Regions from separate parts of the Homo sapiens genome. Here region 2 is linked to region 1. Evidence: fine-mapped expression QTL. A gene starts in region 1. The other region holds a variant in brackets. All regions are shown on one strand. Distances are between the middles of the regions. Region 1 holds the start of LYPLAL1-AS1 (LYPLAL1 antisense RNA 1). Region 2 has its middle 6.5 kb from the start of ZC3H11B.

Evidence for each region. PIP is the estimated chance that this variant, and not a neighbour inherited with it, causes the effect.
Region 2: its variant is fine-mapped to the expression of LYPLAL1-AS1 in unexposed skin (GTEx, PIP above 0.99).

The regions. Positions count from the first base shown.
Region 1 is chr1:219,554,726-219,560,110 of GRCh38, reverse strand. It overlaps LYPLAL1-AS1 (LYPLAL1 antisense RNA 1), which reads left to right and starts at 2,787. Exons shown (of 4, transcript NR_135822.1): 1 at 2,787-2,920. It overlaps LOC124904514 (a long non-coding RNA gene), which reads right to left and starts at 4,711. Exons shown (of 2, transcript XR_007066882.1): 1 at 4,634-4,711; 2 at 2,404-2,918. RefSeq lists an enhancer at 4,398-5,097.
Region 2 is chr1:219,616,937-219,622,321 of GRCh38, reverse strand. No RefSeq gene overlaps it. Among named protein-coding and RNA genes, the nearest start is that of ZC3H11B, 6.5 kb to the right of the region's middle. The variant A/C (reference allele first, on the strand shown) is at 3,357.

The DNA of each region.
Region 1 (5,385 bases):
AAAATACAACATTCTTTCATTTCTATTATCCTGGGAAAAATGGTTAAAGGACTAAACTAAGATTAGAACACATATAAAAATCAATCCTGATGCTTACAAAAAGAAAGCAAGACTCTAATTCTGAAAAGCTCTGCCAGTGTGAATATAGTGGATGCCACTTGTTTGAGTTAAATATTAAATTTTCCTCCAGGCTGTTCACAGTTCCTTTCTCCAAAATACTTTGTGGGAGGTAGAGATTTTCCCAGCCCAACTGTTCCAACAACATTCTCAACAGAAACAATTCATGATCATTATACAAAATTCACCAAATACAGAAATGTACAAATATGAAAATTAAAACTGCCATATCCCAACCATTCATGAATCACTGAAACATTGTACTGTATGTCATTCCAGTTTTATTCTATAGATAAATGTGACTACCAATCCATCCATCCTTTGTCTGAATCAGAGCCTCAGATTCATTTATAATTTGATGGGATATTGTATTAGTCTGTTCTCATGCTGCTAATAAGGACATACCCGAGACAGGGTAATTTATAAAGGAAAAAGGTTTAATTGACTCATAGTTCCACATTGCTGGGGAGGCCTCACAATCATGGTGGAAGGTGAATGAGGAGCAAAGTCACATCTCACATGTCAGCAGGCAAGAGCACTAGTGCAGGAAAACTCCCATTTATAAAACCATCAGATCTCAGGAGACTTACTCAGGACCATGAGAACAGTATGGGGGAAACCGCCCTAGTGATTCAATTATTTCCACCTGGCCCTGCCCTTGACACCTGGGGATTATTACAATTCATGGAGAGATTTGGGTGAGGACACAGCCAAACCACATCAGATGTTTATATACTAAAAATTAAATATTATACTAGTTTAAAACTTATGAAGTTCTACCATAAAAGTTGGTAGACTTATTGTATATAAATTAGGGATTATAGACAAACCATTTATCTATTATCTAGATATTAAGTACCTTTATTAAAATATAGTTATAAAATTTATAAATGATATAATAAGGAACAAAGGGGCTAAGTGATAGTGTCCCAATTACACAGTGAATATTTAGGAAAAACAAGCTAGAAATCATAGTCTCAGAGCCTACATCTATGTTCAGACACTCAGAAATCTGGTTGAAAGGGTTGAAATCTGTGATTGCCATTAAGATTCATTTTGAGGTCTAGCGATATATTTTTTAAATGTTCTGTATTTGATGTTTTTCAAATTGCAAATGATAGTTCATACTTTTTTAAAAAGTAAATGTACTAATAGAAAATAAAGGTGTAAAGGGCAAAACTACACATCTCAGGGCCACCATATATGGTTGGGAAAGTTCTGCGTTGCAGAAGGGCATAACAGCTCATGCGGTTCCTGTCATGGCAGACAGTGAAGATTTTTATATTTATTACAGTAATTTTTTAGTAGATGACAGTATATTATGACAATGTTCCAACAGAGAGAAATAAAGTGTCTTGAGTAAGGGGTATCTTTAATTGGCAGCATCTCTGGTTACTCTCCAAACCCATGTCCTTTCGTTGACTTTTTTTTTTTTTTTTTTTTGAGACGAAGTCTTGCTCTGTCACCCAGGCTGGAGTGCAGTGGCGCGATCTCGGCTCACTGCAAGCTCCGTCTCCCAGGCTCACTGCAAGCTCTGCCTCCCAGGTTCACGCCATTCTCCTGCCTCAGCCTCCCCAGTAGCTGGGACTACATCGTCGCATTCTTATATTGCTGAATCAATAATATCTGACAGAAATCGTCTAAGTCGACTGATGTTTTCAATGGAGGTGTCCTATCTCTTATACAACTTATGATGTGAACTTGAAAGGCCTAATGGGATATAGTAGCTACTGATAGCTCATATTTCAAGCAACCATGTACATAAAATCATCAGAATTTTAATTTTGCCATGTAATTCAGTGGAACATTTCTGTAATCGATGCTCATGTTAATGTTAGAGAAAAGCATTGCCTCATCTTGAAATACTTTCTAAACTTTCGAAGAAAGGTTAAATTATATTCAAGATTTGTGTAGTGTTGGATTTTTTTTTTGGTTATGCTCTTTGAAAATGGTTGATCTATTGCTTATATGTGCAATGAGTCTTTGTTTGTTTGTTGGTTGGTTTGTTTTTGACACATGGTCTTGCTCTGTCGCCCAGGCTGGAGTGCAGTGGCATAATCTCGGCTCACTGCAATCCCTGCCTCTCAAGCTCAAGCGATCTCCCACTCAGCCTCTCAAGTAGCTGGGACTACAAGCATGCACACCTCCACACCCAGCTAATTTTTGTATTTTTTTTGTAGAAATGGGGTTTCATCATATTGCCCAGGCTGGTCGCGAACTCCTGGGCTCAAGCAATCGGCCCACCTTGACCTCCCAAAGAGCTGAAATGAGAGGTGTGAGCCATTGTGCCCAGCCTGTGCAATGAGTCTTTATTGGAATAAATTAAATTACATATTTATATGGGGCTTCAAAACATCTTCCCATAACCTTGGTATTTGATCTTTGCAACTGCAACAATATAAGGCAGGAAGTGTCAGTTTCCCAGTTTCCCTGTAGAGGAAGAAGCATTGGCTTAGTACTGTGGTTTGAATGTCCTCTCCAAAACTCATGTTGAAACTTAATCCCCAATGTGGCAGTATTGAGAGGTGGGCCTTTACGAGGTGATTGGTTATGAGGGCTTGGCCTTCATGGATGGATTAATCCATTCTTCAATTAATGGGTTAATGGATTAATGAGTTATCATGGGAAGGGAACTGGTGGCTTATAAGAAGAGGAAGAGAGTGCTAAGTGGGCACATGGGAGCACCCTCAGCTCCCTCTCCATGGGATACCCTGTGGGGCACTTCAGAGTCCCCACCAGCAAGAAGGCTCTCTCTCACCAGATGTGCCCCCCGCCAACCTTGGATGTCTCAGTCTCCAGAACTGTAAGACATAAATTTTGTTTCTTATAAATTATCCAATTTCAGATAGTCTCTTATAAACATTCAAAAACAAACAAAGACATTTTGAGAGGATGAGTATCTTGCTCAAGGCCCTGTGATCACAAAGATGCAGGGCCAGTTGGGTACTCAGTCTTTATAGGGCCCCACAGTGCTTTAGAGGGGAAATAATAAGAACCCACCATTTTCTGACCACCCTAATTAATTGGGGATTTGCTCTGCTTTGGATACTATAAAAGATACCAGTACAGCTCATGGGATCAATGTCCTCTTCTTCGCTAGAGGAGTCCCTTGCTGTGATTCTCTTGGATACATTTTAGGACTTTCTTCCGTGTTTCTCAAATGCCATAGGAACGCATTTGCTTCCACTTTCTGCCCTATCCCACCGATCTCCTTCCTACCTCTCACACACATTTGAAAGGCTGAATGAGTCTACTAATGATTTTAGTGACTGAAATGCAATCTAATAGAATAATAGACTATTAATTAACATCAATAAATAATGTACTTTTGTTCAAGTTTACAGTTATAGTGGTTTATAGCTACCAGCACTTTACAGTTTACAAAAACCCTTTCCTTCATTAACATCTAAAAATAATCTCCTGTTGGATTGGATAGATCTGACTTTAGTTAAGCCTCATGATTTTAGCTTTCTGGAGTGGGGAGAGGGGCATATACTTTAGAATAAAACCATTTCAGTAAGGTGTGATGAAATTAAACTTAGGTCACGGTGTTTAGTTAACATCTCAGGAACACCACCACCAATGAAAAGCAAAGCCTTCTTCCTTTTAAATTAAATAATGAATAGTTGGATATTTTTGTTAGGAGCTGGTGGGTTAGGTAACTGCACTTATTTACATTTTAGAATTACAGGCTAAAGACTAATTAACTGGTTAGAGCATATGCAATGGACCGTGGCAGTCTGCAAAGATTAACAAATTAATTAGTTATTTCCATCCGTTACAATTTTATTCTTTTCCTTGGAAATGAGTGGCCTGTTGATTTCAGCCTTTAAAAGTTTCAGAGCAGGGCTGTTCATTCAGCTTTCTGAATGGCTGAATAGAACAATAAGATTGTGTAACAACTGGGACACGTCAGTGCCTTCGTCAGGGGATAATGTAAGCTATAGAAAGCCCTTTTCATCTTTTAGCAAGGGCCCATTATTCCTATGTATCTCTCTTCTCTGCTTTATGAAAAGGTTTGTACAGTAAATAATGACCAACTATGTAGTAGTTCTTTCTTCTTTTGCCAAGCTCTTTTTAGCTTTGGCAGCAATTTTGTTTTCCCTGTCATCATCTAATGTCTATTTATTTTACATTGCTACAAAGCCAGTGAAATTCCCTTATAAATCCCAGGTCATGAAGATGAAGCAGCAATTCGATTCCTTTTATTAAACGTCTCCAGTGTCCTCTGCTTTTTCTAATTAGGTTCAAAGTGGTCAGTGGCTTAAAAAGCCTCTGGGCAGGAATCAAATCTGTTTGAACAACGCATTCCTAAAGGCCATGCATATTAGATCCTTGGATTTAATTAGAGGAGAGGTATCAAAACTCAGATACTCTCTGGATGCATTTAGGATTGTCACCGAAAGGTCCTGTTTCTACACAGGCTATTTGACCAAATTCCTCTCCTCCCTTTGGCTCTCCCTCCCCTCAACATACAATAGACATTAGGTATTCAGAGCCTGGGGCTATTACTCACCACTGGTTCTCAGAGGCTGCAGTTTTCTTTTGTCAGCATTGCCACAGCATGAAGGTGAGAACAAGAAGCTCTGAAACTGAAGAGAAAAAGATAAAAGGAAAAGTATGCAGGAGAAAAGAGAGGCTCTTTAACTGCTCTGTCAACTCGATTTCTCTCCTCTGCCCCAGGCGTGTTCTGAAGATGGATGGGCGTAGGTACAGGTGGTACATGACAGCAGCTGTGATTTCCATCTGGGTACCATTTAGGAGCAGATAGATTTTTCAGGCCATAGTCTCTTTCAATTGTTGTGGTTAGAGAGCGAAAGTGAGAGGCCCACTGTGTTTTCTTCCACCTCAGGTGCTATTGTTCCAAACCATTGTTTCTCCCAGGGTTGGCTTGCTATCAAAGAAGAGAATTAGAAGGGAATTATTTGATTGTGGGGTGAGTGAATGCGAGAGTTAACTGATGAGAGGTGGTGGAGCTCAGACGCAAACCATCTCATGGAATACATTAGATATTAGATTTATCCAACACGTACTCCTCATATTGTCTATTTCCCTCCTTCTAAGCTATAAGACTGTCAGGGGACACGGTGCTCTTCTGGGGAGTAATGTACACATTTGTGTCTGTGCAGTGCTAAAACAACTGGTTGAACTGTGAAAAATTCAGTACATTAACTAAAGCTCATTTTTGGTTGTGCTAAGAAACCAGCTTCTCTTTTACCTCTATGACAGAATTGACAGGTGTCTACATGTGATGCCAGGACAACCACC
Region 2 (5,385 bases), 62 kb before region 1:
GCTGAGACGATGGGGTTTTCTAAATATACAATCATGTCATCTGCAAACAGGGACAATTTGACTTCCTCTTTTTCTAATTGAATACTTTTTATTTCTTTCTCCTGCCTGATTGTCCTGGCCAGAACTTCCAACACTATGTTGAATAGGAGTGGTGAGAGAGGGCATCCCTGTCTTGTGCCAGTTTTCAAAGGGAATGCTTCCAGTTTTTGCCCATTCAGTATGATATTGGCTGTGGGTTTGTCATAAATAGCTCTTATTATTTTGAGATACGTCCCATCAGTACCTAATTTATTGAGAGTTTTTAGCATGAAAGGCTGTTGAATTTTGTCAAAGGCCTTTTCTGCATCTATTGAGATAATCATGTGGTTTTTGTCTTTGGTTCTGTTTATATGCTGGATTACATTTATTGATTTGCGTATGTTGAACCAGCCTTGCATCCCAGGGATGAAGCCAACTTAACCATGATGGATAAGCTTTTTGATGTGCTGCTGGATTCGGTTTGCCAGTATTTTATTGAGGATTTTTGCATAAAAAAATTTTATTAAAAATCAAAAAAAAAAAGCATTTCAGGTTATTCTTATCATCAGCCAGCTTGGAAAACTCTGTAGAGTAGAAAATGCTAAGGCTCAAAGGTAAGAAGTGTTTGGAAACTGAGCAGTTCCATCTGGCTGGATTGTGAGGTGTGGAATGGGAGTCAGTGAGAGATGAGGTAAGTAGGAGCCAGTTTACGAGAGACCTTGGAGGCCAGCCAAGGAGCCCTGGCATTATCTAAAGGCTGTGAAGGCCATGGAAGCATTTTAAGGATGTTAAGACTATGACTATTTTTAAAAGTCTTAGACTTTTGGATGGCTATAAGAGTGATTGGGAGTGGTGCTGGAATTAGAAGATAGAGAAAGAAAGAAGATATCTATGGCGTTGAGCTTCCTACAAAGGTTTGGGATGCAGATATGTATTAGAAGTCATCCTGACACACATGGTAATTGGACACCTTGGTCAAATTGGATCTTTTCCATTTCTTTTTTCCAACCCATATATCGATCTCCCCTTTTCTCAGCTACCCATGTGTGACTGTATCTACAGCCAACAACCTGTGACCTTGATCCTGTGTCCACATCCCCAGGACCTGTGTGCTGGGTCTGCCTAGACTTCTGCTCTCAGCTTTTCCTTTCATAACTAGTCTGACTAATACCTCCATTCTCATTGGGTATTTCTGCGAGGGGTGCAGAGGCTGCTCTTCTATCTTCTTATGCCATATGCTGGATTAGTACTTGATTGTGGGGAAGAAGTTTTCTACAGCTCTAAACCTCTATAGTTTCTCACAGAAAAATTGAATTAGGCCCAATTCATGATGGGAAGCCTCTCCTACATCTGGCTGATTAGCAGCTGTCAGACAATGGATTAGGATGCCCTTTAGGGTTTTGGATTTAGGATAACAGCAGGTAATTTAGGAAAGCTGACTCACCTGTTTCACCTCTCTCTTCGAACCTTTATCTTTGAAACCAGACTTTTGCTTTGGAAACATTGTTTCTGTTTATCTAGTATTGGTTTTTATGGTACTAATAATAGAGTAACCAGGGTATTGAAAGAGCGGTTCTCCATTGGGTGCAAGCAGCAAACTACATTATTTTTTTTCTCACTGTCCCTTTAGACAAAATCTGTGGATTAGTTTTTCCTTGCTTTTTGGCTGAAATTTTGGGCAGGGTCCTAACTTTGCAGACACTTTTTGATAATTAAAAAGTCCACTAGTCACTTTTAGCCCCAAGATACATAATTAACATTTGCTGTCCAGTTTAAATATCAGCATGGCAATACTAAAACATAATATTATTTTAGCCTGGAAAGCCATCAGGGGAGGAGAGATTTATGGTAGATTTCTCCTTCCAGATGAAGTTGTCTCCTTTCAGGGGACAAATAAATTCTCTGTGTGGTCTTCTTAGAGCCTCTTGCTGTAGATTGAGATGCAGGAGAAATTCTGTCTCCCCACCCCCAATTAAAAACACTTTCTAGAGAAAACTCTTCTGTCCCTTTAACTTCAAATGTTTTATACCCTAGAGTTGGGTGATGGGCTAAGGCTGACCTGCCAGTTTCAAAACCACATAGACAGCTTAGCCTCTCTCTGTGTAACGTGAAGGTCCTTGGCATCTGGTGTTTTGTTCTTGGTCTTTATGTCTTGGAAAAAACTGAATGAGAAAGAGTCACAAATAAGATTCCATTAACAAATTAATTTTGGCCAGTGCTATATATTTTACAAAGTGTTTTCACATGTATTGATTTCATTTGTTTTGTAGTAATTCCATGAAGTACACAGGACAAAAAAATGAGACTCAGATAGGTTAACCGGCTTGTAGTGTATGAGGCTAGGGAGATATTAATGGTGGAAGCTGGACTGAAACCTAAGTCTCATAGCTTTAGTCTGGTTTAGGAGTTATCCTAGTGGAGTGGAAATATAGTAAGTTTTAAAATGGGCCCAAATCCAGCTTTACTCATTATTATCTTGTAACTTTTATACAAATTTCTTAAACTTTCTGATCCTTAATTTCCTAATGTAAAATGGAGATAATACCATCCTTATCCAGGATTTTGATGCAGATGAAATGATATAAATGCAATGCTGCGGATCTTGTTAAAACGCAAGTCTGGATGGCACCTGAGATTCTGAGTTTCTAAAGGCTCCCAGGTGATGCTGATGCTGCTGGTCAACCATGAATGGCAAGAGCATCATTCATTTCCAGCACTTGGTACATAGGAGATGTGTAGGGAAAAGAAAGAGAGATCAGACGGTTGTGTCTATGTAGAAAAGGAAGACATAAGAAACTCTATTTTGACCTGTACCCTGAACAATTGCTTTGCCCTGAGATGCTGTTAATCTGTAACTTTGCGCCCACCTTGAGCTTATAAAAACATGTGTTGTATGGAATCAAGGTTTAAGGGATCTAGGGCTGTGCAGGATGTGCCTTGTTAACAAAATGTTTACAGGCAGTATGCTTGGTAAAAGTCATCGCCATTCTCCGTTCTCGATAAACCAGGGGCACAATGCACTGCGGAAAGCCGCAGGGACCTCTGCCCTGGAAAGCCGGGTATTTGTCCAAGGTTTCTCCCCATGTGATAGCCTGAGATATGGCCTCATGGGATGGGAAAGACATGACCGTCCTCCAGCCTGACACCCGTGAAGGGTCTGTGCTGAGGAGGATTAGTAAAAGAGGAAGGCCTCTTGCAGTTGAGGTAAGAGGAAGGCCTCTGTCTCCTGCCTGCCCCTGGGAACTGAATGTCTCCGTATACAACCCGATTGTACATTTGTTCTATTTTGAGATAGGAGAAAAACCGCCCTGTGGCAGGAGGCAAGACATGTTGGCAGC[A/C]ATGCTGCTCTGTTACTCTTTACTCCCCTGAGAAGTTTGGGTGGACAGAAGCATAAATCTGGCCTATGTGCACATCCAGGCATAGTACCTTCCCTTGAACTTATTTGTGACACAGATTCCTTTGCTCACATGTTTTCTTGCTGACTTTCTCTCTACTATCACCCTGCTCTCCTACTGCATTCCTCTTGCTGAGATAGTGAAAATGGTAATCAATAATGAGGGAACTCAGAGACCTGTGCCAGTGTAGGTCCTCCGTATGCTGAGCGTCGGTCCCCTGGGCCCAGTGTTCTTTCTCTACATTTTGTCTCTGTATCTTGTTTCTTTTCTCAGTCTCTCATCCCACCTGATGAGATATACCCACAGGTGTGGAGCGGCTGGCCCCCTTCAGAGACGCTCAATAAATGTGTGTTTCCTTCTCCTTCCTGAATAGTCCATCTGCTCTGCTCTCCATCTGACTTTAGGATCCACTAACTTGTTATTTGGAACGTACTCATAGGTAACACAGAATTCACATTTAAAGGACATACATACACAAACTCCTCATCTGGTCCTCTTTGAGTCAGTTGGAGGGCAGAACGTAGCAGTATCATAATTCGGGCTCTCCATAATATGGCACCAGCAGCACGAACATAAGAAAAGCTACCTAGATCATAGGGGATGCTGGATTCCAGGTTCTCAAACAACAACTTTATCTTCACTGAGCTAAGAAATAAGTGGAGGGCTTGCCAGAAAGAATTTAAAAGATTGCTTTTAGAGTTATTTTAAAGAAATGAGATGATTGTTACAAATACAGAGATAGCTTATGACACCGTACAGGATGGCCAAAAGCCATACACCAGTTATACTTTTGATAATAATTTTTCAATTATGATTTACTGAGGAGGGAAAGACAAAAATATTTTCAAACCCAAAGCCTAAGCTCTGCTCCTGAGCACATCTGTTTGAATTCTGACATGGCAGCATATTGGCATGTGTTTAAGCTTATTAATCCTTAAGAAGGTGTAAAGGGATCATGGAAAAATCTTTTTTTGCCTGTAAAGAGCTGCAAATTTTGCCTTTAATATTCAGTTCCTTTTGTGTCATAATCGAGTGGCATCTTCAGTTGTCAGCAGCTTAAAAGATAAACTTAATTTGAAGAGGGAGGGGAATTTCTTTAATATATTTATTATATAAATGTATATAATTTTTAAGTTGCCTTTTTAATGCTTATTTGGGATACTTGATCTTTCCTCTTGAGTAAAAGCCCCTTGGCTATTAACAAACTGGGCATATTAGCGACTGAACTAGGCTGAGATGAAGTAGAATGAATCCCTTCCCTAGGTGGACACAATCAGAAGACTCCATCCCTTTTCCCCAGGTGGCTGTGGTCTGTGTGGCTTACAGTGTGTAGGAGGGAACATTGACGTATTGAGCACATGCAGTGGAAAAAAAAAAAAAAAACCAACAGGGATAAAATAGTTTGTGGTATAGGAAAGCACATTTTGTTTATTAATAGAAAAGACTAGAATATGCAGTAATTTTCTTGCAAAAGTAACAGAAATTTATAGAAGTTAGAAGAGTGCAACAGAACAATTTGTTGTCCCTGGAAATTTTTTCATTACCAATAAATGCAGACCATAATAACATGTTTGCTATATTTTTCCATTGCAAAAGTAATACTTATAAAACAATATTTGGAAATATAGAAAGTTAGTGAAAATGTATCCATATTTTTGGCATTCAAAGGCAACTAAGTTTAACATTTTGTAATGTTTCTTTTCTGCCTTTTCTTTGAAAAAAAAAAATTGGTTTCTGAAAATATTTTTGACCAGAATGTGTGGGTTGATGGCCTCAGACCCACCAAAAAATGAGGTCATTGACCCCACTATAATAAGACAGGGCTATCTGCCTGTAGTTTCCAAGGAAGATAAAGTCTCAGCAAATAAATTCTCAATGTCTTACACTCCTTGTCAAACATTGTAACCCTTTTATTCTATTTTATTTTATTATTATTATTTTTTTAGATAGAAACTCGCTCTGTAGACCAGGC